Regions from separate parts of the Homo sapiens genome. Here region 1 is linked to region 2. A link means that fine-mapping ties the variant in region 2 to the expression of a gene that starts in the linked region. Tissue or cell type: lung. Region 2 holds a variant in brackets; the other region holds the start of a gene. All regions are shown on one strand. Distances are between the middles of the regions.

Region 1 (15,847 bases), 94 kb after region 2:
TGGCTCACTGCAACCCTCCACTTCCTGGGTTTGAGTGATTCTCCTGCCTCAGCCTCCCAAGCAGCTGGGATTACAGGCGCCCGCCACCACACTCTGCTAATTTTTTTTTTTTTTGTATTTTTAGTAGAGACGGGATTTCACCTTGTTGGCCAGGCTGGTTTTGAACTCATGACCTAAAGTGATCTGCCTGCCTTGGCCTCCCAAAGTGCTAGGATTACATGCCTAAGCTACCGCACCCAGCCCAAACTTCCTTTTTTATAGTAACTGATATTATGTGGGCCTTGTAATTATTGGGAATTAGGCTTACTCACCTTGTCACCTAATTTTACTCTAGATGTGTGTGTGTGTGTGTGTGTGTGTGTGTGTGTGTGTGTGTGGTGTGTGCTCGTATGTGCATTTTGGGGAATTGTTATCCTCATCTCTTTTTCTGGTTTTACATAGCACCGCATGAGTTAGAAAAACTATGCCATCATGTATTCCCAGATTCTACCTTCAAATTTTTACCTATGAAAATTTTGAATAACATCCTCACCTCCTACCATTGTTTTGGGTCTGCTTTATTTGATGGTTTATTTCAAGCGGTGGAACAAGGTGTAAATTCGGGATAATGTGATTGAAGAAAGAAACAGCTTGCTGAAGTAATTTTTGAAAGAACAAAGACAAAACATTGCTAACATCGTTAGCGTAGTAGGCAGTACAGCAACTAAAGGAAGGTAAAGATGGAAGTCCTTGGATTTTGTTGCATTTTTTTCAGGTAGTGAGAGAAAGACAGATAATAAAGTGGTAGTAAGTAAGATGAAAAAGGTGCTGTTAATTTCCAATGCATTCTGCACAGTCATGAGACCATTTACAAAGTTGCCTACCTGCCTCTGTTTCTGAGTAGTTTGGAAGAGCTTTTACAATGCTACATGGGCAACATCTGCATATGCCTTGGCATAGGAAAATCGTTCCTTTTCTATGAAGTTAGATAAGAGAAAACCTTCTGAATGTTTTTTTAGTTCAGTCAATCTAATATTTGAAGAGTGTTGCAAACTTTTCATGAGAGGAATAGATGCATTTATTTATCAGTTCTCCTCTATTTAATAACACTGGTATAGGAAAGGCCATTAAACACTTTTCTCCAGAAAAATTACTTTGTAATAATCTCTGGCTCATCTCTCTTACCATGACAAGTGTCCATTACTGCCCTCTGCTGCATGAACTTGGACCTCTCAGTATTTCCGACTAATAATCACTATAAGATCACTACTTAAAACAAACAATAATAACCATTACTAACCATTAACAGGAATTCTTTTGTTGTCAGAGAATAATACCATGATGGGTTGTCTTTTCCATCCCCCACATATAAAGATTTACTTAGAGGCATTCCTTAGAATGATTTCCTTAGAGACATTTTTAACATTAAATAGTCCCTGAAACAGAAAATTGGGTATGATTGTGTCAGCTATATTCAGGAAGTGTTTCACAAGTGAGTGACAGATATCATCATACAAATTAATTTAAAATCAGCCATCTTAGGCAGTATCTACACTTGGCTAAAGAGAATGAAGAGTTTGGACTATAACATGTATAACTTTTGGTTAGAACTTGCAGCTGGGGGCTTTTCTAATGAATTACCTTCTAAAATTATGCTAACATATAGGAGGAACACGAAGTAATTTAGTGAATTTGGAAGTTGTATTTAGAAGGCTGGAAATTAGCTTACCTTTTCATGTTAAAAAGAGCCCCAGTTTATAGCTATAGTCCATATATTCCTGGCCTCAGTGGTAGCTACCTCCAGTGTTAAGTGGTGGGGTGAGGTACATTGAATATTATAAAACAAAAAGATGGTTTTAAACTTTCAGTACTTCTGTTAATACTGAGCATATTTATACAATACATTTTGATATATAAAAGGCAAATTGATCAAAGGTTTGAGAGTTTCATTTTATTATTAATTTAAAAATACAACATTGATTGGCATTGGAGGACAAGGCTAACCCAACAATTTCAACTGTAACATATAAACAGCTGTTATGTTCTTGGAGATATTGATTGTTCTTTGATATATACAAATGTTCACATACATTCTTGACAATAACAACCAAAATACATTTTATAAATTTCAGAAAAAAACAACAAAAAGCTAAAGTAAATTTGAGCTTATTCCAAATCAGATTTCTTAATAACTTAAAGACTAAGTGGTCAAGTGCACTTATATTAAAAGTGATTTCATTACCAGTTTCAATGAAATTAGATATCCCCTCTGTTTTCACATATTTAGCACTGCCTTGAATTAATTAAAGGTACTGTGATTCCAAGGAACTATTAACTTTCTGAGTAAATTAAACAAATCAAATTAAATAAATGGACAAATTAAGTTAGTAACAGAACAACTTGCTGATTGCTAGATCACTGTAGTTTTGTTTGCTGCTTCCTTTTCCTTTGATCTACCATGATTTCACTTTTCTATCATGTACTGATATGTTTTATTGTTTCCATCTTTCATTAACCAGGCATTTATAAAAAATGTAGAAATGACTTTATCTTCTTGGCAAATTGCTTGCATTCTCTCTTTTCCTTTTCAGGGCCCCAGTGGAATATTGACAATCACAGTCAGACTCAGTTGGCTGATTTCTAATTTAGCCATAAGTCACACAAAAAGAGAAGGTGAAAAAATGAATATCATTAACACAGATCCAGAAATAAAATGGTAATAAAAATATTTAAATAATGTTTTCAAAATAAACATATAACACAGTTCTCCTTTGAGTTTAGGAACTCTGAGAAACTGCTGTATGTCTTGTGTACAGAAATGTTACTCTTTTCCCAAGTGTTTTAATATGCAACTACATGTATAAATCTATCTGTTATGAGCTGAATTTTGCCCCACGCCCTGCTGCCAAGTTCATATGTTGAAGCCCTAAGTCCTACTACTTCAAAATGTAACCACATTTGGAGATGAGTTCTTTAAAGAGGCAATTAAATTAAAATGAAATTAGGGTAGGTCCTAATCCAATATGACTGGTTTCTTTATAAGAAGAGGAAATTTGAACACAGACGTAGGGATGACCACAGGAGGACACGGTGAGAAAGTGGTGATCTGTGAGACAAGGAGAGCAGCCTCAGAGGAGCCCAAACCTACCAACACCTCGATCTTAGACTTGTGGCCTCCTAAATGGTAAGGAAATGCATTTCTGTTGTTTCAGCCACTAAATCTGTATCATTTTGTTATGGAATCCCTAGAAATCTAATATGCCATCTGTAGCAGAGGGCCTTTTTAAGTTCTCTGCTATATGATTTTTAAGGCCCAAGAGTTTTACTATATTAGGCAAAGCTTCAATACATGTAGTCATGTACTTATATTTTTGGTGTTCTTTGCAACCGTTTACCAAATGACTTATTTTAGCTCCTTCAGAGGAATCTGTGTTGGGGCCTGCTACAAGGGTGAAATGGCACCTCCAATTTCTTCTGATGGGTTCCCCTTTTCTTGTGTGCCTTCCACATTATTGCCATAACTGGGCATTCGTTACTACAAATGGAGACACACTGTGCTGCAAGCTACTCTTTGCTCAGTATTATTTTAATATTGGACTGTACATTCATTGTCTTAAAGGGATGAATTGTGGGATACAAATAAGAGACACTATATGTAAAGTGTTCAACAAACCTGGCACATGTAAGGCATTCAATAAATCTGACTATTATTATTACTTTTATTATTGCTGTATATTCTAAGCCAGTTACCTATAAAATTCCTTAAGCTGACTGCAGCATAGTGTCTTGACTTTCTTATATCCCAAACTATTTTTGAGCCTAGGTATTATGATTTATACCTAGAGCATCAAAAAGTAGGATCTATTACAAATGAATCTTCCAAAGATAAACTAAGCACATTTTTCATTTTCTGTTACCAAGCCCAGTTATGTTTCAAAGACAGATTTTTGAGTTGCCTCTTGAGAATCTATGTCTTTATTATTTGCAAGTAGTTTTTCCATTATTTTTAGTCTGCACCACAGTTTATTTTATGTGTGGTAAGAGTATAGTTAAAGTTTTGCCATATTCATTAATCATAGGTTCAGATAATTGATCAGGAATAAACACATTGTACAATGAATGGATTAGCTACCCTGCCTTTTCATTTTTAATGTTCCCTACTTTAAATGACCAAATCATTTCTGACTAAATAAATTGCCATATTTTTAATAGTTTCCCCATTTGAGTAATGTTCATTTTGGAAATTGTCTGTAATACTAACAGGGTAGAAATCAATCCATCATGTATTTGGTGGGTTGACGGCTCACAGAGTATTTTGTCCAATAAAACAATAACAAAAACAGGCACTTAAAATTTATCTTTGATCCAAGAGCTGGACACCTCTCCTCTGAAATATTATAAAAATTAGCACAGTTCTCAACTTACTTTGAGACCACTGCAGAACCCTAGAGACCCGAAAGGAACAGAGTCTGAAAATCACTGGTCCAGATTATCTAAATGTTGTTTGTTTTGTTGCTCATCAAGATGAGATTCCTTGGAATTGAACCTCACTCAAGAATTAAACATATGATTCTTTCACTGCCAAGTATTACTTGGTACTTTAGTACTGATTCAAAAGCTGAATCTTGAAAAAACCTGCCAGAACTCAGCAGTGAGAACTTACCAAAAAGGATATGCATTGTACAGAACTAACAAAAATTTTATATCGTAAAGGAAAATGTTTCTTATTAAACATTTGATGACTTTTTCTAATTCCACCTCCATCTATGGTCACATATATGCACAAGGCTCAGCAGAAGTTTTTATCTGCCTGAGTTTCAGATTATGTTATTTGCATTTTTTTTATTGTTTGGGTTCAGGCTCAAGGGGTAATATCTGTTCAGTAATCCTCTTTCATTTAAGTGGCAGGTGAAGTATGGATAAGATGACTAACTCGTTAAGGTTCGAAAAAGAAGCCGTTGGCTGAGCAATTGTTTCAGATTGATTTACTGTGAAATCTTCTGACCCATTTCACTTGTGCATGTTTTTGTAAGCATAGCTAGTGAATCAAATGTAGGTGATGAGATCTTTTTTATTAGCTGGTCCTGTTGTCCATGAGACCTTATCAAGATAGCATCAACAACTGAAACTAATGCAGGGATCAAATAGGAGATGCAATTTTTTCATATCTGGTATGAAAATTATTCCCATCAAGAAACACAAAAAATTTTCACAATATCAATGCAAGCTTACATTTGTTACCAGGTATTTAGAATTAATTTGCAGCAACACATAAGACTGTTGTTCTTAGGCAGAGGAGAAACATAAAACTCTCAAAGTATGAGTATTACTAGGCTACAGAGCCAGGTAGCTTGGTTTACTATGGAGAGGGAAAACCCATATAACCTTATTTTTCAGATCCTTAACATCCATCAAGTTTCAACCATACATTAAAGATTTTCATGTCTATTCTGTGTGTGCAAGATGCTTTGCGGTCCTGTGGGACCTACCAAAGACAATCTTACTTCCCAGGTTTGCTATTCTGTTCTTATTGACCTAACATGACCATCACTAGGGTCATTTCTTTGGGTTCAACGACAAATGTAGAAGTATTGTCTCTATGTACACCATTAAAATGTGCATTTAATTCTGAAGGAAAAAAAGAACTCTGGGGGACATATCTGATCACTTATATTCCCATAGTCACATGAATTCAAGCCAGCTTGGCTTGAATTCAAGTTGCAGCTATCCTGTGACAGATTGAACTCTGAGACTGGCATAATTCAGCAGTGGATGAGAATAAAGGCTCACAGCAGCAACTTCTGAGAGGGGCTAGGAGCAGATTTTAGTATATTAAGGTGTCTACAGAGCTCCAAGCCCCTTTAGAGGCAAGACCCCCATTCATTCACCTCTGTGTCCTCAGGGCCCCATACTTGCTTCACGTACGGGGAATGCATGAACAACTGCTAAAAAGGCTATTGTAGGAAATATTCACTAATGCAGGGAGAGAGGTAATGGGATGAAAATTAGTAAGCTTCAGTAAACAAGACTAAGGTAACAAGTTATATACTTAACTTACCTTTGGGATTAAGTATTCAGAAGGAATCCAGGATCCAGAAACAACTGCTGAGAAAGTAGTGGCTTTTCTATGGAACCAAAATGGCCCCACAGCTAGAGGAGCAAAGATAAGAGGGAATGTATGGCCAAAGGAAAAAATGTCCATTAAGGCACTTTCTTCTGGACAGGAAGGTTGTACATCCTGCTTTTGTACAGTCTTGTTTTTAAATATCTACTCTCTAATTATATTATTGCAAATGGCATAAAAATCTACTTTCCCAAGTAAAATATGAAGCTTTTGTCTTTACACTTAGGAAAACACACACAGGAAAAACACATATGGGGCCATGACAGTAATCCACAGGATTATGTTTATTTACAGTTAGTTGATTTTGTGTGTGCATATCTACTTGTCAACATATGGGTCATGTATGTTTGTTTCTGTCTGTCAAAAAAAATTTACACAAAGCATTTGGGTCATGAATGAAATTAGTTTTTGACTGCTTTTTAGCCTAAGGCGTAATTGTGTATGTTTTAGCTTTTGATTCTATATGTCTGATTTTGTTCTATATGGAAGAATGTTTGTGTAAGTAGATTTTATGTCGACTTTTAATTTAACTGTATTTGTAAAAAATTGCTTTTGGAACTTGCGGGGTTTGAATAAGCCTCTGAGATAATGTGTTTAGGATGGTACTCAGAGCTGAGAGTAAATGTGTTGTGCTTGATATATGTTTTCTGTTTAGCAGTACATGTGAGTAAAGTTAGGCCTGTGTATGTGGGATATTATTTTATTTAGAGGTAAAGAAAGAAGGAAGTGACAGAAATAGGCAAAGCATCTTCACATTTTCTCATGGTTCATTTGGGTTTGTTCTTCAACATATGGTCAAAGTCTACACCCTTCCAAGTGAATGTAGAGTGATCTGTTGCCTACATGTTTAGCTTCTATCTTTTCCTTTTGCTCTAAGCTACTTTTCAAAAATATTTAAACCAGTATACTCCTAACTTAAGTTTCTCAATTTCTGTCATGCTTTCTGATTGGCAAATCAGAATGAAGGCAAAAGATATACTCTTCTGTAAAGTCTAAGCTTGGAATCGTTAAGTACTTATTTATAGAGTAACGACCCATTTCCTTGCCTTTTATTAGTGCCTAGAATGCCTCACTTAACTTTATAAACTTACAAATTTATTACTGGGCATATATAGATGTTAAATGTTCTTACTACAATCATGTTATATGTATAAATACATATATATATTATACATGTATATAAAGTCACACACATATAAAATTTATATCTATATAGCATGAGATCTACCTTCTCAATAAGTTTTTAAAAATACAATGCATTATTGTTGGCTATAGGTACAATACCATATGACAAATCTCTAGAGTTTATTCATCTTAGTTAACTGAAACTTTATGATCATTGATATAGTAACTCCCCATTCTCCTCTCCTTCCAATTCCTGGTAACCATCATTCCAACCTTTGATTCTATGCATTTAACTATTTTAGGTACCTCCTATAAGTGGATTTGTCTTTCTGTGATTGGTCGAGTTCACTTAGTATGATGTCCTTCAGGGGTCACCCATATTGTTATTCCTGGCATATTTTTAAAAAGTGGAAAAAAAACCCCACACACTAAAATGTGAAAAATCTCTACCTTAAAGAAAGGAAATTCAAAAGATAAGAACACATGCCAGAGGGTGCATATTTTAATCCCCGTTTCCTTGTGTATTAAAAAAAAAATCTGAAAATGAAGAATTTCAGGGCAGACAGACTCATAGGTCAGGACTGAGAAATTTGCAAAACTGGAGCTGTCTGGGAGAAAATAGCTCTAAATCCACACTTTAGAACTCTGCGTTGTTTTGGGGGAAAATAAGAGTCACCAACGTTCTCACTTAGCGACAAGTTTAATTCGTACTCATGGACATGCGCCAGGATCAGGTGTGAAAGCTGTGAAATCTAGGTCCAAAAATTCTGAAGAGGATGCTGCTTGTATCCTCCCCTGGCGGCTAGCTGCCTTCTAACTTCAAGTTGTGGCTCAATGCTTGGATTTCTCTGCTCCTGGACATTAGTGTCTGCGAAGCAGAAATGCAATAACTTTCGAACAATCCCTTGCTTTGCTTGGAAAGTCTCGCACTTGGCCACCAGACATCACCGAACTCAGCGCTTGTCTCCTGCAGCAATTCCGTGGCTCGCTGAACGGCTGCCACTGGCGCCCCCAAGCGCCAGCGCGTCCCAGTCGTTCCCGGAGCAGCCTTCGACCTTCGGCCGAAGGGAATTGGACCTGGAGAGACCCGGGGGCTGACAGGAATGGCTTCTCTTGTAATTCACTGGGGCTAGAAGGCAGGAAGCCAAGGAAGACAGGATCTCAAAGGCTCCCTGCCCCCGTTCATTCCTATCTGGGATTTCCTATTCGCAAAAAGAGCAGTTGCCTGGCATGGTAAAGATGCTCATTCGAGCTGTGAGGTCCAAACCCTTGGAGCGTACCCAGAGCATCCCCTTCTTCCCAGTCCCTCAGAGACATAGACATATTCTACGAGTGCGGCGGGGCCCGGGGTTCCGAAGGAGGAGACTAAAAAGACCCAAATCGAACAGGCTCATCTTTTCCCCTCTTTGGTCTGCCCCTTTCCTTCCAGACCCTCTATCCGGATCATTGGCCACCCCCTGGCGCACCTATGTGGCTCCAGCTTCACACACTCCCTGGGAGGCACAGTCTAAAACCAAACGTGAGCTCACAAAGAACACAATACTAATGAGCAGATGCGCAGATGCTCACTTCTCTAAAGCTTCCATAGGGCTTTTCCAGCTCTCCTCGCGGAGTCAGGGGCTGAAGATGGGTGGGAAGATCTAAGAAAGGGTGGCAGCGATCAAGTGGTGTCAGCTTGCCCCACTCCGTTTCCACCTTTGGTCTCTGCCAGTTTCCAAAGACCCCTCCAACCGCTGGAGTTGTTGTCAGGAATTAGGAGCCCCTATGTTCCATTCACCTCATGGAAAAGCTAGATCCCCCTTTTCCAGTAGTTGTGGGTGGAGACAGAGCGGGAGGATGAGGAGGAGGAAAAGCTGGAGTGAAAGCCGCAGAAGCAGAAGCAGCACGCAGAGAGGAGGGGGGCGGAAGCGGTGGGGAGTGAGAGAAAAATTTTCACTCTTTGTCACTCTTGAATTGGGGGCGGAGGTAAAAAAAAAAAAAAAGTCCTCACTGTGGGAAGCTATAAAAAGCAAAGAGGACTGGGGAGAGAGCAGAGAGAGAGAAAGCGGGAGCCCGCGGCGAGCGTAGCGCAAGTCCGCTCCCTAGGCATCGCTGCGCTGGCAGCGATTCGCTGTCTCTTGTGAGTCAGGGGACAACGCTTCGGGGCAACTGTGAGTGCGCGTGTGGGGGACCTCGATTCTCTTCAGATCTCGAGGATTCGGTCCGGGGACGTCTCCTGATCCCCTACTAAAGCGCCTGCTAACTTTGAAAAGGAGCACTGTGTCCTGCAAAGTTTGACACATAAAGGATAGGAAAAGAGAGGAGAGAAAAGCAACTGAGTTGAAGGAGAAGGAGCTGATGCGGGCCTCCTGATCAATTAAGAGGAGAGTTAAACCGCCGAGATCCCGGCGGGACCAAGGAGGTGCGGGGCAAGAAGGAACGGAAGCGGTGCGATCCACAGGGCTGGGTTTTCTTGCACCTTGGGTCACGCCTCCTTGGCGAGAAAGCGCCTCGCATTTGATTGCTTCCAGTTATTGCAGAACTTCCTGTCCTGGTGGAGAAGCGGGTCTCGCTTGGGTTCCGCTAATTTCTGTCCTGAGGCGTGAGACTGAGTTCATAGGGTCCTGGGTCCCCGAACCAGGAAGGGTTGAGGGAACACAATCTGCAAGCCCCCGCGACCCAAGTGAGGGGCCCCGTGTTGGGGTCCTCCCTCCCTTTGCATTCCCACCCCTCCGGGCTTTGCGTCTTCCTGGGGACCCCCTCGCCGGGAGATGGCCGCGTTGATGCGGAGCAAGGATTCGTCCTGCTGCCTGCTCCTACTGGCCGCGGTGCTGATGGTGGAGAGCTCACAGATCGGCAGTTCGCGGGCCAAACTCAACTCCATCAAGTCCTCTCTGGGCGGGGAGACGCCTGGTCAGGCCGCCAATCGATCTGCGGGCATGTACCAAGGACTGGCATTCGGCGGCAGTAAGAAGGGCAAAAACCTGGGGCAGGTAGGAAAACCCCCAAACACATTCTTCAGACAGAAGAGGCAGGGGCCAGCTCTCTTGGGCTAGCGGTTTGCCATTGCATCTTGCAACATTCGGAGCGTGGCCCCAGATACAGAGAACAGGCGGCTGGGGAGGGATTCACCGAACAGGGTCTGCGTGGGCGGGGGGTGTCTGGGTGGCTGCTGGTCCTGCACTGCACGGAGTCAAAGGGTTAGGATTCTGTCTCGCCTTTGCTCTGGGGCGTGGGCACATATCAAGATCTAGTGCTTTCCTGTGGAGAAAGTGGTCAGGATGGTCCTTCCATTTAACACTGTGATGCAACTGATGAAGATGTTAATAGCATTTAACCTATAGCACCTAATAACGTGCCAGGCACAGTTCTAAGCGTTTTACATATTCACTCATTTAATCTTCACAACTCTGTGAGCTAGATGCTGTTGCTTTCCCATTCTGCTAATGAAGTAATTGAGGCACGGATTGATTAACGATTTGCCCAAGGCACACAGCTAGTATAAGTGGCAGAGAGGGATTTCAGTCTAGACATTGAGATACTGGGCGTTTAACCATTATATTTTACAATCTGGAGGGGACATTACTCCTTTTCAGGGTCTCCTTCCCTTCCAACCACTTACTCTCTTCAAAGAAGTAAGGTCACAGACAAAACAACTCCAGTAGACGCGCATTTCTCACTCACGCAGAATTGTACATAAATCACCCGGAAGGAAGCAAAATGATGAGATGACAATGACAGCGTCGTAGGCGCCAGCGATACAGCAGGACACTGAAGGCGTTTTTGAGAGAGGGAACTTTCCGCAGGCGCCTCTGTCTCTGTCATACAGACAGATAGATTGAAAGCCACTTGCAAACTGTTATACAAATAGACACGCACAGAGACGAGCGCGCACACTCGGTACCAGTTGTGGCTGGCGCGCTGTGGCCAGGAGAGGGGGCTCTGTGGGCACTGGGAATCATGACAGCTCCCCCTTCCGCTCCTTTTGTGGGAAGCCAAAACTGAGAAAGCCATTTTACCAATGGCACACGCACCTCGCACAACACAAGTGTCAACCCCTGGCAGCGGCCCACGCCCCAGAGATCCGAGTTTCCTTGGAACCGACTGATGCTGCTGTTTTGCGCGCTCTCGGTGTCCTCCGCCGCCCCTGTCCACAGCGCAGCCAGCCGGCTGAAGGTTGGTTGAGAGGGCCGAGCCATTCTGGGATGGACAGAGAGACAAGACCCGGGCTTGGCCCCCTACTGCCCTCTCACGGGGACAATTTTGCAGTTTTGCTAGTTTTGCAGTTCCAGAACTCTTCCCAGAGCTTTGAAGTGTGAACCGTTTCAGCTATCCTTTCAAGGGATTACAAAATCAGCAATCAGATTTTTTTTAAGGTCTCAGGAAAAATAAGAAAGTACATATACGTTCAGGCAAACATAACCGTTGCACATCCTCACACACGTGCACATGCCTACGCGCTTATGTGACCACTTTCCTTCGCTTTTTCTCTCCTGCGAGTCACCCCAGGATTTTCAATAGCAATGGTCCTAACAGTTTCTTAGAAGTCTGTCATGAAATGGAACAGGGATTAGAAAGAATGGGTGCTCTCAATCCAAATCATGACTCCTCTAATGCTACTGACTTCAAATTTCATGTTCCCAGTTGAAGAAAGCTTAATGTGTAGTTCCCCCAAGGACACAGGGAAGGAAACCTCAATAGTCCTGAGGTTCCTTTCCATTCTAATCTATGTATTTTCTGGGAATTTTTGTAAAGCGCTTTTTGTTTCTGTTCCACTATTGGGCCAACATACCTGATGTTCCTCTGTCAGAAAATCAGTTACATGCGTCGTTTCATTAGCCTTAGCGTTACACAGGGGAGACTGAGGGATGCATCCCAGAACCTAGCTTCTTCTTTATGTTTTAATACTGTATCTGTATATAAATCGGTATAAAATATGTTTTTGTGGTGCTACCTCTCCAAATAGCTACTTAATTATGCTTCTTAAAGAGTTTGGAAGTCTACTTACATCGCCTTAAATTGAGAATTTATTTATTTATTTCACAAATGAGTTGAATTTCTTATATGCCTTTCATAACATAGCAGTTCTATGGAATATATTTTATTATATTTACTTAACTGGAATCCTAGATTGTTAAAATTTGACATTAGGCTTGTGAAAAAAATTGTTAACATATTCAAGATGAAGGTAAAACAAAATAAAATACTGGGTTGAATAGCAGGAGGCTAGCTGGCAAATGTGAAAATTTTATTTTGTGTATTCTTCTTTAACGAATGATCTAAAGTATGTACTGTTATGAAGAAACAAATAGTAAAATATTTTCTCTTTGAAGTGAAAAGAATAATTCTTTGGATACTTATGAGTCTCTTTATCTTTTTTATTCTATAGTTATGTGGTCACCAACATTCTTAGTATTATTATTTTCAGAAATGAAATGGAAATTAGAAAGGCTATTACAGGGAAGATGTTATTTCCTTTTGTAGAGAAAAACTCTAGAATAGAAAGGTAGCTGAGCTGAATTTTTATGCATCACAATAGTAAATATGATTGAAAATATTGGAATTAATGTGTCAACTAATCAAATTAGCTAATCATGTAGTATCATCCTAAGACCTAATAAGTTTTATTTCCCCCAATTCCCTTTATACTTGACAGATGATGTTGAAATATATTCCTTTCAGGGATACAGGAGGAAGAAGCTCTAGGATGCAGCTTCAAGTAGGCAGATTGGAAACTCAGTCCTTGGTGTTCTTTCTCTTAAATGGATGTTGAAAATAGCCTATTTTAATTTTTCAGGATAGAGAATTAAATATTGCCACTGCAGAAGAAATTCTTGAATAAATTTAGTAATTCGTTAATCTACAAAAGTGAAAATGAGACTATATGAGCTCTATAGTTTTATTGAAAGTTGCCTGATTTCATATAAAGATAAACATTCTTATTTACAGGAATTCTACTTGTTCCATAGGCAAGGTGGATTATTTGTAATATCACTTCTAGAAAATGTGGCTTTGAATTTTAGAAAAAATTTAGAGAGAGAAAATCCACTGTTCTCCAGAGGTGTTACATTTCTCAATTTAAGGTTGGCTTTCAAAAACACAGTATGAGTTATAATGGAAACTGACATAGGAAATTGAGAGTGATAGTATTCAGATGATTGATACAGAATTAGCAAAAAATGAACTGCTGAATTATTCGCATCAATGTTTTAATTTGCCTTTTCATTTGCAGCTATTGCTAATAAGTACTGCATGTATGTGCTGTATATGTATACAGGCTAAATTAAGTTTCAGACTGTTACTAGTATATTTACATAATATATAAATATTTATGCATTTTAATATATATGTCAATTTCTAAGGATACTGTTTCAGATGTTCTAAATTAAAAGTAATTTCAAACAAAATCTTCAATATCATGTGAATAAATATATTTTGATGAAGTATGCCATTTCTCGATACTATCTCTAAAGTTTGAGGTGTTGACTTTTATGGACCACCTTCAAAACAAATTTTAAAAACCCAAACTACTAAAAAAATCAAGCTTTGCAATTCACATATTTTTCTGTGTGAATGAAAAACCTTTGGATTTGTGTTTGTAATTGCTTATTTTATTCTTCTCGTTTTGTCTTTCTGAGACGGGCAGATGAATTTAATTTGAATGCAATGCAGTAGCATTTTGCAATTCTTTTAAAAGTGACTAGAATAGTGATATTTATAGTTATATTTTAAATGTAGATAAACTTTCTGGCATGTGTTTCTAAAAAGAAGCTATGGTTTAACACAAATTCAGATTCTATGATTTTCTGATATGACTGGGACACTTCAAGGATAGTGGTTTGGATGAAGTTATGTTGTGAGAAAAGAATTCTTGAAATTCATTGAAAGAGAAGCTTGAACGAGTTGACTAAAGAGCACTAATATTTGTAGACTGCATTTTCTTTAATGAAAGTGTGCTGTATCTGTATGCACAAACATTCATGAAAGTGCTCACTGAAATAAACTATATACTCTAATATTCGGTAAGGGATCTCTTTACTTTCTGAAATTATCCATGACTTTTTTTTCTAACCTCAGCCCAACTTTCTCCTGCTTAGGAGTAAATAATCTGATAGCCTCTCTGGACATTGACTAACACTAAACACAATCAGGAAAGCAAATCATTTTTACGATTAAATTTTAAAAAATAAAGGAATTTGAAATAATCTACATTAACGTTCCTTTCCTCTCACCATGAATTATAGAAAATTGATAGTTGATACAAGTGGAAAGTTAGTTCTTGAATAGCAAGAAAAGTATTTTAATGATAATCTAATATGAACATCCATCATTTTATTTTTGTGTTAGACTAGAGAGCGCAAGAGGACAAAGTTGCTCAAACTTACTCCAGCTGTGACTCTGACCCTGTCATAATCTTCTTGAATATTCTTCTACAATACAAACTTTTGCACCCTCTTCTCCTTTCCAAGATATTTTGAAACTTATAATTTTAAGATTAGGTAAGGCAATGTCATAGAACTATAGCTAGTATATTCTGATCTAGGAAAATATTGGCTCTTCTTCATTTCCTTACAAAATTGCTTTAAATGTACATTAAAATAATCGGTTACATTTTAGAAGAAATTTATAATAGTTAACATATTTACCATTTTAGACTCAGTCTCTAATGGCTGTTTATTCTTTAGTATTGAATTAACAGCAAAATCAATTACAATCAAATTTCTACCTGTGACTTTCTGACGGCCTGTTGGAGTTGTTTTACTTCCTTATGCCTCTAGTCACTTGTGCTCACTTATAACAAGGAGATAAACCCGTTTTTAGTTATTTATCTGATTGTTCAAAAGGTTTATGTGATATTTGTGTCTGCCTGAGCCCCTTACTACGTCCTTTTTTTAACAGTCCAAAAGCATAAACCAAAAGGAAGTAAGGCTAATCATAATTGATAGACATATTGCATTATGTAGCATCGCTTTAAGATTACACAGAAAGATTTAATATAGAATGCATAAGAAAAATTTAGTATTACTATTTAAGGTAAGCAAAGGTCAATTTTCTGTTCCTCCTCTGTCCACTCTTGACAGGAACTAGAGCAGAATAACATATTTTTCTCTAATTGTAGTGTTAGGACAAACATAAAGCATTCTTTCAAAGAAGTCAGTCGATACAGCATTTGGTAGGTTCTTTTCTTTGTAATGGCAAATTTAATCAAAGAAAACTTTAAAGCAGAAAGATTGCAATATCCTGTTAAATTTTTTTTAATAGAAGTAATTAGTTTATGTATCACTAACAACAGAATTGCTACTCTAACATGTATTCCACAACCCCTGAATCTGCACAACAGATTATATTTTGGGAACCTGAATAATAGTTTAGATTTTTCTATGTGCTTTAAATATAAATTCAGAAATAAAATCAGCAAAAATACAAAAGTAGTCAATTTTTAAAAAAATGTTACTTATCTTTTTCCACAGAGTCAAAAGGGACAAATGGACATCAGATATCCTTTTAAATACTTTGCAGTATCTAATTTAAAACAAAATAATCTAGAGCAAAAAAAGAACAAATCTACAATTTTAAAAAATCAATGAGCAAATAAGTACATTAAATGACAAAACAAATAAAAATATCACAATTAGGGAA
Region 2 (15,847 bases):
CAATGATAAGTTAGCTGGATGGTAAATAATACCCTTGAAAAATGTCATTAAATCATTATTTTAAATATGTATGTTTTTAACTGACAAATATTGTATATATTTATTATAATGGAGCTAATTAATGTATGCATTGCCTCATATATTTATTAAACCATTCTTGAACCTACACAGTTAATAGTAAACCAAAATCCATCGGAAGTCAAGTTAGTCTATCAAACTGTAAACATTTGTTTTAGGCTATTGACTAAACATTAGATATGCAATGCAATTTTCATGATGAAATGACTAAAAGTTTATAAATTAAAAAATTACTTATGTTCAATAATCTAATGTTCTCATTATATTGATACTTATTTGTTATAACAAAGTCTTTCCTGCATTTTCAATATTTTTTCATAAAAAGTTGTGAGACATAAAAGTAGATAGACTAGTTAAAATGAGCCCCCTGTACCTACAATCCAAGTAGCATTGTTTTAAATATCAATTTTTCCCATCTGTGTTTTGCGGGGATGGGGTAGTGGATGTGGAGGTCTGTGTGTGTGCAGAATATAATATTTTAATTGAGGTTCTTGAGATGGCATCTAAGATTCAGCAGCCAAAGTCCTATTGGTTCAAAACATCTGAAAAATTGTTTTAAATTTAGGATGCAAATGCAACTGCACAATGATAATGACCTTCAACACATATCACCACCAACACTTGAACAATTTAAGCAAAGCAGGAAGAGGAGTGTGCTTAGTCCAGGATTAGAGTGATTAAAGGGAACCTGCTATACTTGTTTTATTCATCTGGTTGTTTGTAAATGCACAAGAAAGGTAAAAAATAGCTCACATTATGAACAACAAAAGTATATTTATCCACCATCCCACTCTCCCATATTAGCACTGAGTTCCCTGTTTATATTATTTGTACATGAAGAGCATACCATGTTTCTACTCTTAGCTCTATTTTCAGGCAGAGTGAGTTTCAGTTGATCAGCTTTCCCTACTCTCACCTGAGCTCCTTGTCAGCAAGCACAGGTATGTGAATGACCCTTGAACTCAGATGAGGACACTGCCTGTTGTAAAAATCACAAACTGATATACTTTTATATAAATCTAGCCCGTTAATCTTTTAGTGTGCAGTTTGAACAAAGTTCTTAAAACATTAACAGCCCACATTAAAAAATATGGAGACTTGACATGAAAACATGGATTGTCAACATTTTTAACTCTGATCTCACTGCCCTCACAATAGCCAAGTGACATCTATCCCGTTGAACAGGCACATTTTCTCTGGTATACTGCAGTTCCCACCTGGCCAGGGCCATTTATTCATGTTCTCTGTTAAAAAATCTTGAGTTTGCCAACCTTGGTCTACAACCATTAATAAACACTGTTCCCAACGTGTAAACTGACTGATCCAAAAGAGCAGACTTTCAAGGACAGAAGCCCTGTTCGTGACTTTGTAACTGGATGTTAAAATTCATATTTTTGACTAAGTAATACAGGCACAATAGATGTGGATTTCTAACATGTCTCTGCCTCTTGAGTGTCTTCCAGACCATCACTATGAGTCCCAGAAATTCCAGGTGGGCAGACCTCAAAGTTAAATGATATGAAGAAGAAATTTCCAAATAGATGACCCAGAACCAGTTAGATAGCTTTAAAACCCTTGAGGAGTATAAAATAGGATGTAAAAAAGAAGACATTTCTTTTTCTTAAGTTATATGAAGCTTTATTCATAATTGATACTGATTTATAGAATAAATGCACATAAATGGAAATTTATTACAACAAATAATATAAAGGAAAATATAATGCCACCAATCCAAAATGAAATGACAAGGTATAAAAACACAAATAAATATAGATCTGATTGAAGAACATAACTAATCAACTTTTCAAAATTGCCTCGTGGCTAAATACACTGTCTTTGCTACCAACCCAGGCAATTCCAAGCCCCCACTGTGACCATAGCCAGATTGTGAATGGCGACAATTCATTTAGTCTCTCTGTGTAAGTTACCCTTCTCTTTATAATGAAAGTAATAGTAGTGTGTGTCTCATAGATTTGTGAAGAACAAAAGCATTACCTCACGTATGCTCTTCATAGCAGTGATTCATATTTTGTATGTTTCCTCTAAATGTTATATATTTAACTCTTGGAAATCTCTTAATAATATTTAAAAACTACCTTAAAGATACCTGAGAGGGAACTAATTGTAAGTAGATAATATTGGATTTCAGCTGAAATGATAAATTCAGCTGTGCATCCTATTTCTATGCAAGATCCTCTGGCTCTGAACACAAGTATCAGTCTTGGTAAACAGAAAGGCCTCCAGAGATTTGGCAATAGGAATAATCTTCTTATCATAGAGTATATTTGAAATCAGAGAAGACTTCTTGAGTGTTTTCTAGGCCATCACTATGAGCCCCAGTGATTCTAGGTGGGCAGAGCTTAAAGTGAAAACTCCCAAGTACACTGGATTATCCACCATGCTGTGCTGGAGTCTGATCATGCTGATAATTACCATTTTTCTTCTTTGTGTGGTTGGCAAGTGGGCTAACACAAGCATCACCAAATATATATATATATATATATATATATATATATATATATATATATATATATATGAACTGTTATAGTATAGTTCATGACAAAGTAAGAAAATAGGAGGCCAGACACAGTGGCTCACACCTATAATCCCAGCACTTTTGGAGGCCGAGGCAGGTAGATCATTTGAGGTCAGGAGTTTGAGACCAGCCTGGCCAACATGGTGAAACCCTGTTTCTACCCAAAAATACAAAAATTAGCTGGGCATGGTGGGGCACTTATAGTCCCAGCTACTCGGAAGGCTGAGGTGGGAGGATTGCTTGACCCTGGAAGCAGAGGTCGCAGTGAGCCAAGATCATGCCACTGCTCTCCTGCTCTCCAGCCTGGGCAACAGAGTGACACACTCTCGCCAAAAAAGAAAAAGAAAGAAAGAAAGAAAGAAAAGAAAATAGTACAGTTGTCACAAAGAACAATCTTAAATTTAATTTCAAATATATCCATTACTATTTTAAACACAAATAGACTAGTTGTTCCTGTTAAAGTCAAGCATTATTCAACTATATTAAATTAGACATTTTTTCCAACAAACATAACTAAAACATGAGGGTTAAAGTAGAAAAATAAAAAAATACATTTTGTGTAATTTAACCAATTAATCAACTGGGATGGCCTTAAATGTATCAGATAAAATAAAGTATCAGATAAAATAAAGATAAATGGTATCAGATAAAATACTTGGTATCAGATAAAATAAAATTTAAGTTTAAAGAAGGTTGTAATTGTTGTAATTAGTGTTATTTTTGCATTTTTTAATGTTTACTTTTTAATATTATTTGATGGATAATAAATATAATCTGATTTTCGATAGATATACACACATTTATACACATACAAGTACATACACTGTGCACATATACCACCATTCTTTTGTAATGTTACTGTTATATAATTGTGCTTATAATTCTGTGAATCTATGGTAAATGAGTAAGTTAACAATTGAATATTGTTAAATAACATACAATTTAAATTTTTCTGATAATATGAAGGGTTTTTAAGAAATTTTATGTGGGAAAAGCAGAGCTTTAATACCCTAGAATCATAGTGCATAAAAATAAAGGGTCTAAGCATTAGGAAACATGCATCAGTTACTTCAGAGAGGCTTACCAGTAGCCAAGTAGAATTATTTGAAAGAGCCAAAGACAGAGGAGAGGGTATAAACAGATACAAAGGTGCTGGCCAGGACATGGATGCTTTGGGCAGCTCCGGATTCAAGAGAGGATCTAGGAGAAACGTCAGTCTTAGTAATATATTGGACCTGCCGCTTGTGCCTGTGCAGGATACATCCATGAAGCTTCTGGCGCAGAGCATGAACCCTGAACAGAAAACATCAGGGAATGATAATAATGCTGCATAGACTGAGTCTGTAGTTTTGTCATGAGCTATACCATAAGACATTTCAGAGTGCTGCTGCTAGTTGTCAGTCCCCTTTAATCCCAAAGGAGGACAGGTTAGAGTGTTACCTTCTTCACCTGAAGTCTATTGAAGTAATTCCATGGGATCATTCAAATGCTTCAAATATGTTCCCTATGATTAAAAGGCATCATTAGAAGATGCCTAATTCATGCCTTACTGAAACAGAAATAGAGATAGAGATAAAGAGAGAGAAGGAGAGAGAGACAAAGGCATAGAAACACATTATGTTTGGATAGTAACTATGCTTCTATTGAGTGTGGGGTAAACTGATCTCGTTAAACCAGATGTGGAATACCCATGCAAGAGAGGAGCGGTTCTAACTCTTCCTGAGAGGTGAGGGTGATGGACTCTGAAAGTGAGAGTCTGTGAGGAGTGGACAACAATTTCTTAGGAGGCAGGAATGAGGGTCCATGTGAGTGTGGGTGGAGAAAAGGGAAAAGCAAAGAAAAAAATAATGACACATTATATGGCAGAATTCACAGGTTCTACCCAGCTGAGAAGAAAGGAATATTTAATACTTTGCCAAGTTTAGATTTATATTACATGGGATTTGGAATTACTTACCAAATTGAAGTTGTTTGCAAATCGACCTGAAGAATGTTATTAACTGAACATCATCATTAAAAATATGTATGATTTCTTTTGTTCTCGTCAGGGTCAGGAGAAGATCAACACTATTAAATTCATTTTATTTTTATTTTTTTGATTGAAGAGATTAGTGTTTGTTTGTTTATTTATTCCCCCAGCATTAATGAGGTATAACTGACAAAATTGTATAAAGTATACAACATGATGATTTGAGACGTATATGTGTATGTGTCTCTCTCTCTAATATATATGTGTGTATGTATATATTTCACTATGTATATATATATAGTGAAATGCTTATGACAATCAAGTTTGTTAACACATATGTCACCTCACATAGTTACCCTTTTTCTTTGTGGTGAGAACATTTAGGTTCTCTTTTAGCAAATTTCAAGGATAGACTATAGTATTGTTAAGTATAGTTATCATGCTGTACATGAGATCTCCATAACTTCGTTTTCATAACTGAAAGTTTGTATCTTTGTCCAGCATCTTCTCATTTTCCCCAGCCTCAGCCACTGGCAATTACCATTGTACTCTGTATTTCTATGAGTTTTACTTTTTTACATTCTGCATATGAGATCATAGTATTTGTCTTTCTCTGTCTGACTTATTTGACTTAGCATAATGCCCTCAAGGTTCATTGGAAATGGATGAGCACTTACGTTGCTTTCACTTCTTGGTTACTGTTTTTTTTATAATGTAGAATTTTAGGATTTAGTAGCACCAGAACACCTTAATAGCAATCCCTACATGAAACTTTTGAATTGAGGCAATACAAAACTCATGTATGATTCAGACTCTTTCTTCCTCCGTAAAAGCCACCAACAATATTCCAGATGATAAGTTCTTTGTCATCCTGTGTCTTGAGTCACTGATGGTACAGAGATCTAAATTGATCTATGTTATATACATAGTATGAGTGATGTATAAACTTGTGTGTGTCAAACTATAGAAATTTGGAGATTTTGTTGTTACAGTGCTGTAACCTACCCCACCCTGACTAATCCACCTAGTAAAGTCTTACATTGAACAAGTACGCAAGAGATTTATTCACTTAAATGTACTGGAAAAAATTGATAAAACACAGTTGATTTTCCTGACTTATGGCCCACATCTTCTGAACTTTAGGAAACTTTAGTTCATGCATGGAGACTAAAAGAAACATAAGAGAGACATAAGCCCAAAAAACTGTTAATACAAAATCAACCTCTGTTAAATGTTGTAGTGGAAAAATAAAGGGCTCTGGGAGTAGAGTGAGGTTATATTAACTCTGCTTTGCAGATCTGAGAAAGACTCAAGGAGGATATATAATTAAATAATTAAATCTATGCCTAAATAACTTCTATTGTAGGCTCTTGGTTACTGTTAATAACGCTGCAATGAACATAGGAGTGCAGGTATCTTTTTGAGATACTGATTTTATTTTTTAGGGTATATACCCAGAAGTAGGATTGCTGGACCTTATGGTAGTTCTATGTTAAATTTTTGAGGATCCTCTATAATGTCTTTTATAATTAAATGAAAAACACTCCCACCAACAGTGCACAAGAATTTCTCTGTGTTTTTACCAACACTTGTTATTGCTTGTCTTTTTGATAATAGTCATTCTAAGAGGTGTCAGCTGGTAAGTTTTTGTAGCGTTAATTTGCATTTTCCCATGTACCTGTTGGCCATTTATATGTGTCCTTTGGAAAAATATCCACTCAAGTTCTTTACTCATTTAAAAAAATAGTTTTATTTGTTACTGTGTTATTGAGTTGTATGAATTCCTTGTATATTTTGGGTATTAACTTCTTATCAGATATAAGGTTTGCAAATATTTCCTCCCATTCTGCAGGTTGCTTTTTTCATTTTATTGATTATTTCATTTGCTGTGCAGAGCGTTTTTAGTTTGATGGAGTCCCGCTTGTTTATTTTTGCTTTTGTTGCCTATGCTTTTGGTGTCGTATTCAAAAAATAATTGCCAAGACAGATGTCAACAAGCTTTTCCCCTTTGTTTTATTCTAAGAGTTTTACTGGTTTAGGGGTAACATTGAATGTTAGAGATTGCTTTGGGTAGTATGGTCCTCTTACCAATATTAATTCTTCTGATCCATGAAGATGGGATATCATTCCACTTATTTTTATCTCCTTCAATTTCTTCATCAATGTTTTATAGCTTTCGGTGTAGAGATCTTTCAGCTCCTTGGTTAAGTTTATTCCAAGGTATTCTTATTTTTTGGTAACTATTGGAAATGATATTTTAAAAAATTTAAGATAGTTTCTAGTTAATACATAGAAATGCAACTGATTTTGGTGTGTTGATTTTGTAACCAACCACTTTACTGAACTTGTTTATTAGTTCTGACAATTTCTTGGTACCACCACTGAATATATTTTAAAGAGACACAGGACACAATAACAAAACTGTGCTTTGATTATGTCAGGAGTTATGCTTGTGCACTGTACTGGATACAAACAACACCAACAGCGCCACAACAGAAACAACCAGGCTCTGTGGAGAGGGTTGTCTTCATGCTCTTAGACCTTCTGGTTTTTGTGTACAGCTTTATCAATTTGCTGATAGTCTGATTATCCACTCACAGGTCACCACTATATTAGCACATCTTTTCTGTTATCTTTCAAACCTATTGAAACCATGATTGTCATTAATGTTCTCTGTTTTTTATACTACATTCTACTTTCCTCTAGTTTTTCTTAAAATCTTCAATTCTATCAACTTGCGGCTATTTTCATAAAACTAACTTCTGTTTTTACATTCTGAGCAATTTCCTTTTGTTGCCCAAAAGCACATCCAAGATAGGTATAAAGTAGAACAGCTTCACTTACAGTCACTTAGAGAAGATGATTGAACTCATTAACTGCTACCTTCCCATTGTCAGTGAGTTCTTGTCTGGGGATTTTATGACATGCTATATTGTCTCCATTTTATTTAAAAATAAAATGAAACAAGTATTTTGATGTATTATAAAATGTATCTAGATTTAGAGAAAGAGAAATAAATAAACATGAGAGGAATTGAAATTAATATGGATTAAATTAAATCCCAATAATTAAGGAGCAAGAGATAATCAAATTTGTTAGCATGTGAAGTACATCCTAAACAATTTCCTATGGTGGGGAAAAAAAGGCCTAACAGAAAAATGCAAGAATAATAAGTCACCTTGTCAGAACCAGTTGACACTTAATAATCATAAATTTAACTAATT[G/A]GGCTAGGTATGGTCGCTCACACTTATAATCCCAGTGCTTTGGGATGCTGAGGTGGGAGGATTGCTTGAAGCTAGAAGTTCGAGATTAGCCTGGGCAACAACGTAGTGAGACTGTCTCTCTAAAAAATAAAAAATAAAAAAAAATTCAGGGGTGTAATTAGCGTCTCAAATATTAAAAATTCATGTTACTTTATCAGTCAGTTTTTATTTATCAAAACCTCTTTTACCAAGTAGGAAGTAAAAAAAAAAAACACTATTGCTTAAAAATATATTTGTAGTACCTAAGGCAAAGGAGTGAATATAAGCAAAAAATCTGAGACTGATGATTCATTAGAACACTGTGAATTCTTTGGGAATAGAAATAACATTTATGACTCAGAGCTTAAGTAGACTGATATCCAAAAAATGACAGAAGAATGAAAGAATAAGTGAATTAATGAATGAACTAGTGAATGAATAACTCAATGCCTAACCTCAGAAATTTTCAATAATATGCATATATGTTAGATTTTACTCTCATCTCTGAGGTTAGTTCTTCACTTAATGGATTTACTTATTTTTCTATTTTTGAAATGTTAAACCTAGATTGATGAGATCTCAGAAACTTAGTCTAATCTTCTCATTTCACAAAAGAGAGACCTGAGGGAAGAGAGGTCAAGGTAACCCAATAGATTCTGGAGTAGAACCCAGGTTTTAAAATTTCTCAAACTGTATTCTTTGCACTGTAGCATTCATCTGAAAAAAAATGCAATAACTTTAAAAATATAGATTCAAAATGAAATTTTCAAAAATTAAATAGTAAACCATATTCAAGAATGATTTGGAAGCTTCTTCCATGGTGCTGGAAGTTAAAGGGGTTGTCAGATCTGATCAAGCACAGACAATGACCCTGATTTTATTTAACATTTCTCTTTTTGGGAAATGTGTGTTATCAAAGTTAGAAAGTTAGAGGGTGTAAGAGAATATTATCCTGAGATCTTAAGAACTGTGACAGTTAGAAAATTAGGGAAATTTAGCCAGTAAGTCTTCTAGAGAAAATGACTCAAATATAGGCACAGTTATTAAACATTCTCTTTTTGAATATTCTATTCAGAATCCTAAAAATAAAATAAGAAAAGTGATTTCTAATAAAAATCACTGCACTTTCATTCAAAAACTTAGAGTTGTTTAGCAAGTACCTTCATTCAGCATCATCTCAGCAGACGCTATTGGATACCTCTGTGGTATAATACAAGACTGACTTTGAAAACTGTCTACAGGTTGCTCATCATTTGAAGTAATTCGCATAATGGCAAAAAATACAAGGCTAATACTACAGTGTTTTCAGAAACAATGACTAACAATTGCAGGATATAAATGGAAAAAGTGCCATTGATGATAATGCAGGGGCTTTTAAACACTTGTAAGGGAGGCCAATTATAGTATCTCCTGCTACCTTCTGCCTTTCAGTATAACCCTACCCCCAGGAATGGGAACATGTATCACTTCCTCCAGAACAATTCCTTTCAGTGTAATCATGAAGAAAACCTCTTTTATGCAGATCCCCGACTTCCTTCCCTCTGATGTCCAGATCTTTGAAGCTCACTAAGTCACACAGCATTTCTGTGCATTGTTACCTCCTCCTCAATGAGGCTGTTGGGAAACACTTCAAACAGTCTGTTCCGGAGGGGTACCAAACTGGCAAGGGGAGTTGGGGGGAAAGGAAGGGAAATCAAGTCAATGCTTGCCAAACAGTGAAAAAAAAATGTAGGAGTTGGTGGTGTTGGTGGAGAGGGAGTAATTTTTATGCAGTCAAAAGAAATGGTACCTGAAAGAAATGTTTAATTCATTCTGAAGAAAAAAAAATGATTCAGGAGTTAAATGATTACTTGAAATTTGTGAAAGTTATAAAATGGTGTAAAGAGAATAATTTGAGGTGTTAATGTGAGGCCTGAAAGGGAGTGGAGATGGCTTTGACTTCCCTAAGGTTTTCAAAGGCTCTGAACTTCCTGAGACACCAGGCACTCAGCATCAGCCCAAGAGACAGCAGCGGCTGAACTCTTATGTGGCTACATTCATTCCAATGTAAAATCCTATGTTTAAAGTTTCTCTCAGTGACATGTTCCTTGTAATAAAAAATAACCATATTAAATATGTACAGTATAATGGTATATTGTTTTTAAACAAGAGGCTTTTAAAGGTTTACTGCAAGGCATCACCTATTCTTTAAGTTAAAATAATGTTTGACAGGTCAGTAATGAGACATAAAAGATTTTTTTTAACCAGACAATTTTGTACAAATAAAGGGCAGAAATAGAAACATCAAAGCTCAGGAACTGTGTACATTGCACAAAGCATTAAAAGTTTCTGTTCTCTTTAAAATTTTGACATATGTTTTGTAGTGAGGTTAGAACTATTAAGGGAATGCAAACGTTTGTCCAAACAGTTATTTTACCCCTCACGTCTTCCCATGTATGTGAAGGCTGCTTTGAAGTTTCCCAGAAATAAAGGTGAGTTATCAATGTGCTATGCTGGATAGAATTAGTATGAACAGAGAATCCTGATTAAGGCATGGAATATAGTAATCTATCAATTAAGTAGGTTTATTCTTGATTTAAATGGCATTTTGATTTCTTAATACAGGGATTCCAAGAGAAATATGTCCTCTTTAGTCATCCCAGTTCTTTTAGGGCTGAGAATTGCCAGAGTTGAGGAGCACTGGAAGTTAGTATTGGCTGATTGGCAGTCCAATTAAAAAAATGTGTGTGGAGTACTTCTCAACTGGTGGATGTAACTTCATAAAAATTTGCAAGAGGTTTTTCATAACAATTACATTTTTCTGATTGATCATTTATCATTTGATTTGTAGTTTTTTTTTGTTTAGCTTCAGCAGATTATCAGGATTTCTTCAATGAAATAAGATAGGTGTGATCATTTCTGAAATTGAGTGTGAACACTTGACAGAAATGCTTCTGTAGAGGAATCATTTTTAGAGTATATTATAGCTTAAGGGACAGGGTGGCTCTTTAGTTTTCTCATAATCAACTTTTCCTAATCCTGATTTCTGGAGCCAAAATATTCTTTAAATACGCAACATCTGACATCGTATAATGAAAGAAGCATGAACTTTGAAATCAGACAGATGTAGATTTACACCTAGTCTCTACTGCTTACCAGATGGGGGACTATGAGAATGTCTACAAACTTTTCTGAGATTTGGGTTCCTCATCTGTAAAACTGGAATAACAATACCAATTTGTGGAGGTTTATTATAGAAATTAAGGCACAATTTATGTAAGATTTAACATTTAACAAATAGCAGCTTCCCTATTCCACCTTCAACAGAAGGAGCACTGACTGGACAGACTTCCATTTGGGAGCCAGAAAGAAGCATGTTCAGGATTATAAAAGGCAAACTATTCCTTATCTTTATATTAGATGTTTATTTTGGTGGTTTCAAAACCTATCATTCCAAAAGCTTGAATGTTGGAATCAGAACAAATGAATGAAGGGATTATGTGGACTTGTTTCCTTCTACTCCTTCTTATCATTTCTAACCCCACCCCCAGCATGGCTTTAAAAATAAGCCGTTTGGGGGATCAGCATGAGCACATCAAAGGTGAATACGGATTTCTCAAACACAGCTTGTCCATTGCTGAATGTAGGGTCTTTTTCTGCCACCACCAGACATTTGAACTAAAAAGCTAGATTTCTCTTGGCCATCCTGGCACTACCCACAAACAGCCCAATTCTAAGAACTTGTACTGCTACCTTTAAATGAGTACGTTTTTCCTTTCTCTCTTCCCCTTTGTTTCTATTCAAATTTTGATACTCTTCAATTTTTTTCTAGATTACTGTCAAGGCCTCCTGGTTGGTGTCTCTTCCTCTGGCCTCAATATCATCCAAATACAATGCCAAGTATGTAACTCCCCTGCCTAGAACCATTAGATTGATATCTATAGCATCGAAAGTTAAAGTCTGAATTCCTTGGCTTGGTGAACAGGCCCTTGTGATGTGGCTCCAGCCTATGCCTTCAGCCTTACATCTTGCTGTGCCATTCTTGCTTCCTAAGCTTCCCTGGCACTGAATAACAGCCCATGCTGCTACTAAACTCTGCAGCCTTGTACATGATATTCCTTCTACTTGGATGTTTTTTTATCCTATTGCCACCTGGAAAATTTCCCAGTTCGAACCTTACCTTCTGTGAAATATTCCCTGACTCTCATTTTTTACCATTACCTAATCTTCAAAATCAGAGAGAATTAACCATTCCCCTCTCTGGACTCTCTGATTCAATGATTGCACTTACCGTATTGGATTAGATGTATATTCTTTTCCTGGATTGTCTATGAACTACATGAACAGTGAATATATTTATTCATCCTTGTGATCTCATAATACTCATATAATATCATAGATATCATTTAAGGCTGGTTGAGCCACTGAATTTAGGAGATAGAATCAGGCTACATGGATGTGGCAGTATAAGAAAGAGATAGATGTGATGAGTTTAGGTCACAATTGCAACAAGCTCAGTATTATTTAGCGTTATTTTGGCATGGTAATTTTATGTCATGCAAATCTATCAGTAGTTTAAAAAGAATAGTGAAAGAAAATTTAGTGCTAATGGTATATTTGCTTCAAAACGTCAGTGACTTTACCCTATAACTTTTAGAGCCATTGTAACAGTTAGGATGTGGCCTCACGCTCTTTGAACAAACAGGCTACAAATTGCTGTGGGCCAAAGAAAATATTGTATTTCTCATGATTTCATAATAGAAGTATTTGTAAAATATCAGGAGGTAGAGGAAGAGTGATTACTTAGACAACAGAATTAAAGAAGGCCTTGCAAAGGATTTGATAATTAGGTTGAAACTTGAAAGATGCTTAGCACTTTAATGGCTCAAAAACAGTCAAGAAAAAGACACTATTCTTAGAGGAAATGGTATGGGAAAAACTCAGTCATAAAACACATGCAGTGCCTGGGGCAATGCAAATAGTCTGGTACAATGAACTGAGAAAGCAGTGAGAGATGAGACTGAACAGGTAGGTCGGAATTCACATTGTGAACAGTTGAATATTTGACCTTATAAGAAGTCTTTCTGTGGCCGGGCACAGTGGCTCACGCCTGTAATTCCAGCACTTTGGGAGGCCAAGGCAGGTGGATCACGAGGTCAGGAGATCAAGACCATCCTGGCTAACATGGTGAAAACCTGTCTCTACTAAAAATACAAAAAATTAGCCAGGCGTGGTGGTGGGCGCCTGTACTCCCAGCTACTCAGGAGGCTGAGACAGGAGAATGACCTGAACCCGGGAGGCAGAGCTTGCAGTGAGCCGAGATCGCACCACTGCACTGCAGCCTGGGTGACAGAGCAAGACTCTGTCTCAAAAAAACAAACAAACAAACAAAAAAAAACAGAAAGTCTTTCTGTGATGTCCCAAATGAGAAGCTATGTGAGGCTTTTGATCCAAGTGGTGATGTGACGCTAGTTATAATATTGAACGATGCTTCAGATGGCTGTGAGTGGGAAGAAAGTGTCCACTACTCTATGTCTCATACGGCATCCTGGTCATTCCTATACTATATAACCGGGAAAAGGGGGTTTGTTATGCTTAAAAGTTAGATTTTTCTAAATCCTGATAGAGAGGAGAGTTATTTTGTATGGTATAGCATGAAAGCTGGAGTAAGTTTGCATTCCCATCCCCATTCAAACATCAGAACACCTCGGAGAGGCACAGGTCAGAAGGTAAAGTGTCTCTCCTTCCAGGCTCAATGTGAAGAGCAGGATATAATTATCTTTATAAAATGAGACACTCCAGGAGTTGAATGGCTCACTTAAAACCCAAGCAAACTTAAAATGTCTGATCCCCAGTCTATCCACAAAAAAACCCTTACATGCCCCTCAGTCTATCCACAAAAAAAGATTTGGCTGCATACTATTTCCTTGGGGGTGGGGGAAAAGAATAGAGTATACATTTCTTCACACATCTAAAGATTCTTTTGAACTCATTCTTCTTATATCCCTACACACTTTTATTTGAAAGCTGCAATGCCCACAAATCCAGGCAGATAATTTACATTTTTGATGAAAGCAATTTCGAACGATTTTTTTCTCTGTATTTTTTGGCCAAAGTTTTTGGCAAGAGGGTGAGTCATAGACTCATAAAAGAGATATTTGGGTCATCAGTGATGTTACTATAACTCTGAGCCTATAACAGATTTCAGATTTTAGTTGCTTGTATTGTAACAGCTAAATACATATTATATTATTCCAGGCTAAATAAATTTAGTGGATATCACTTCTGTCTTTTATCTACTGGAATTTATTTCCCAAAGAAGAAGTGAAGCTCATGGGTTCATAGAAAGGAGACATCATTGTAGACAGAACACTATAAATTTTACAACATTAGGCCCATACGCAGCTTAGGATTTGGCTATATAGAAGAAATGTAAAGATGTTGCTGGTAGAATGGATAAAGTATGTAAGAAACAGAACACTTTCATTCATTCATTCATTCATTCATTCATTCATTCATTCACAGATATATATTCAGTGCTTTCTAGGTGTTAAACACAGAGCTGGGAACTTGGTAGATCTTAAGAAAGAATGCAAAATAAACCAGGAAAGATGTGTGATAGGTAGATGTAGAGGGCTTCACATCACTAGTTATCACATTATAATTTGTCTTGGAGGCAATAATTAGTCACTCAGGAGAGCACTGCATTTGAAAGACTAATCCAGAGGCATTGCCAGATAACTAAAAATGGAAGAGAAAGAAGGAAGGATAACAGTTAAGGGAGGCGCTTGTAAGAGTCTCAAGTGTGAGGGAGCAGAGGCTGTATTGGGTTGATGACTGAAGAATGAAAAGGAATGGAAAATCAGGGAGTATAGATCAAGAAAAAAACAGAAGAAATTAGCAACTATTGGGGATACAATGGAGGGAAAAGAAAAATATTTTAGCGGGGGCATTGTTGCTTAAATACTGTCTATTATAATATCTACCTTGGTACATTTCGAACACAGGAATTTCCTTTTTCTTATGATTTAATCACTACTATGCCTAATTAGGTCTAGAGTGGAACATGACTGGTTATCTGGAGAAATATATGAAAATGTAAGTGTATAATAATAGTTTTCCTTTCATGTCACTCTGTAAAAGAAACATGGGAAAATAGGTTTAAAAATAATTACTATAAACAATTTCCCACTATAAGGAGGAAGTAAAGTTTTTTAATCAATATACAGAAATCAAACATTAAAGATTATTTCTACATAATTGCCAGAAGATATATGAATATATTCTTTGCTTAAGACTGGACTACAAAAAATTTTAGGGGAAGATTTCCATACCAAGTTGGTTTAATAAGGACAAAATTAGTGGCAGTAAGCCAGATATTAGGAAAAATATATTCCTTTTAGGTCAAAAGACTTGCGCCTTTTTGCTGAGCTATCATTATAAATGATTTATTTAAATTAAGTATTGTCTAGGATGAAAAGTGTGAAAACCATTTTTGTAAGAACCACTAGAGATATGTTACCATACTGATTTGATAAACATGGAGCTCCTGGTCTTGGATAAAAGCAAATGGGAAGAGAGTTAATGAGAGAGAAAGTTGGTCAGGGAACTCAACCATGATTAGCAACATAGCAGGGTTTGAATCATGAAAGAATAGGCATATAAACAGGCCAGTTCCTTTCCAGAAGAAAGATGACAAGTGGGCCGGGCGCGGTGGCTCACGGCTGTAATCCCAGCACTTTGCGGGGCCCAGGCAGGCGGATCACGAGGTCAGGAGATTGAGACCATCCTGGCTAACACGGTGAAACCCCGTCTCTACTAAAAATACAAAAAGATTAGCTGGGCGTGGTGGCGGGCGCCTGTAGTCCCAGCTACTTGGGAGACTGAGGCAGAAGAACGGCGTGAATCTGGGAGGCGGAGCTTGCAGTGAGCCGAGATCACACCACAGCACTCCAGCCTGGGCGACAGAGCGAGACTCCGTCTCAAAAAAAAAAAAAAAAAAAAGATGACAAGTGTACTTGGGGTCGGGGTCTTACATAGCTG

The links.
Region 1: DKK2 starts here. The variant in region 2 is fine-mapped to the expression of DKK2 in lung (TOPMed, PIP above 0.99).

Annotation. Positions count from the first base shown.
Region 1 is chr4:107,029,723-107,045,569 of GRCh38, reverse strand. DKK2 (dickkopf Wnt signaling pathway inhibitor 2) reads left to right here and starts at 9,257. Exons shown (of 4, transcript NM_014421.3): 1 at 9,257-10,200. The coding sequence starts at 9,979.
Region 2 is chr4:107,123,799-107,139,645 of GRCh38, reverse strand. It overlaps the pseudogene VN1R22P and the pseudogene VN1R23P. Among named protein-coding and RNA genes, the nearest start is that of DKK2, 95 kb to the right of the region's middle. The variant G/A (reference allele first, on the strand shown) is at 7,808.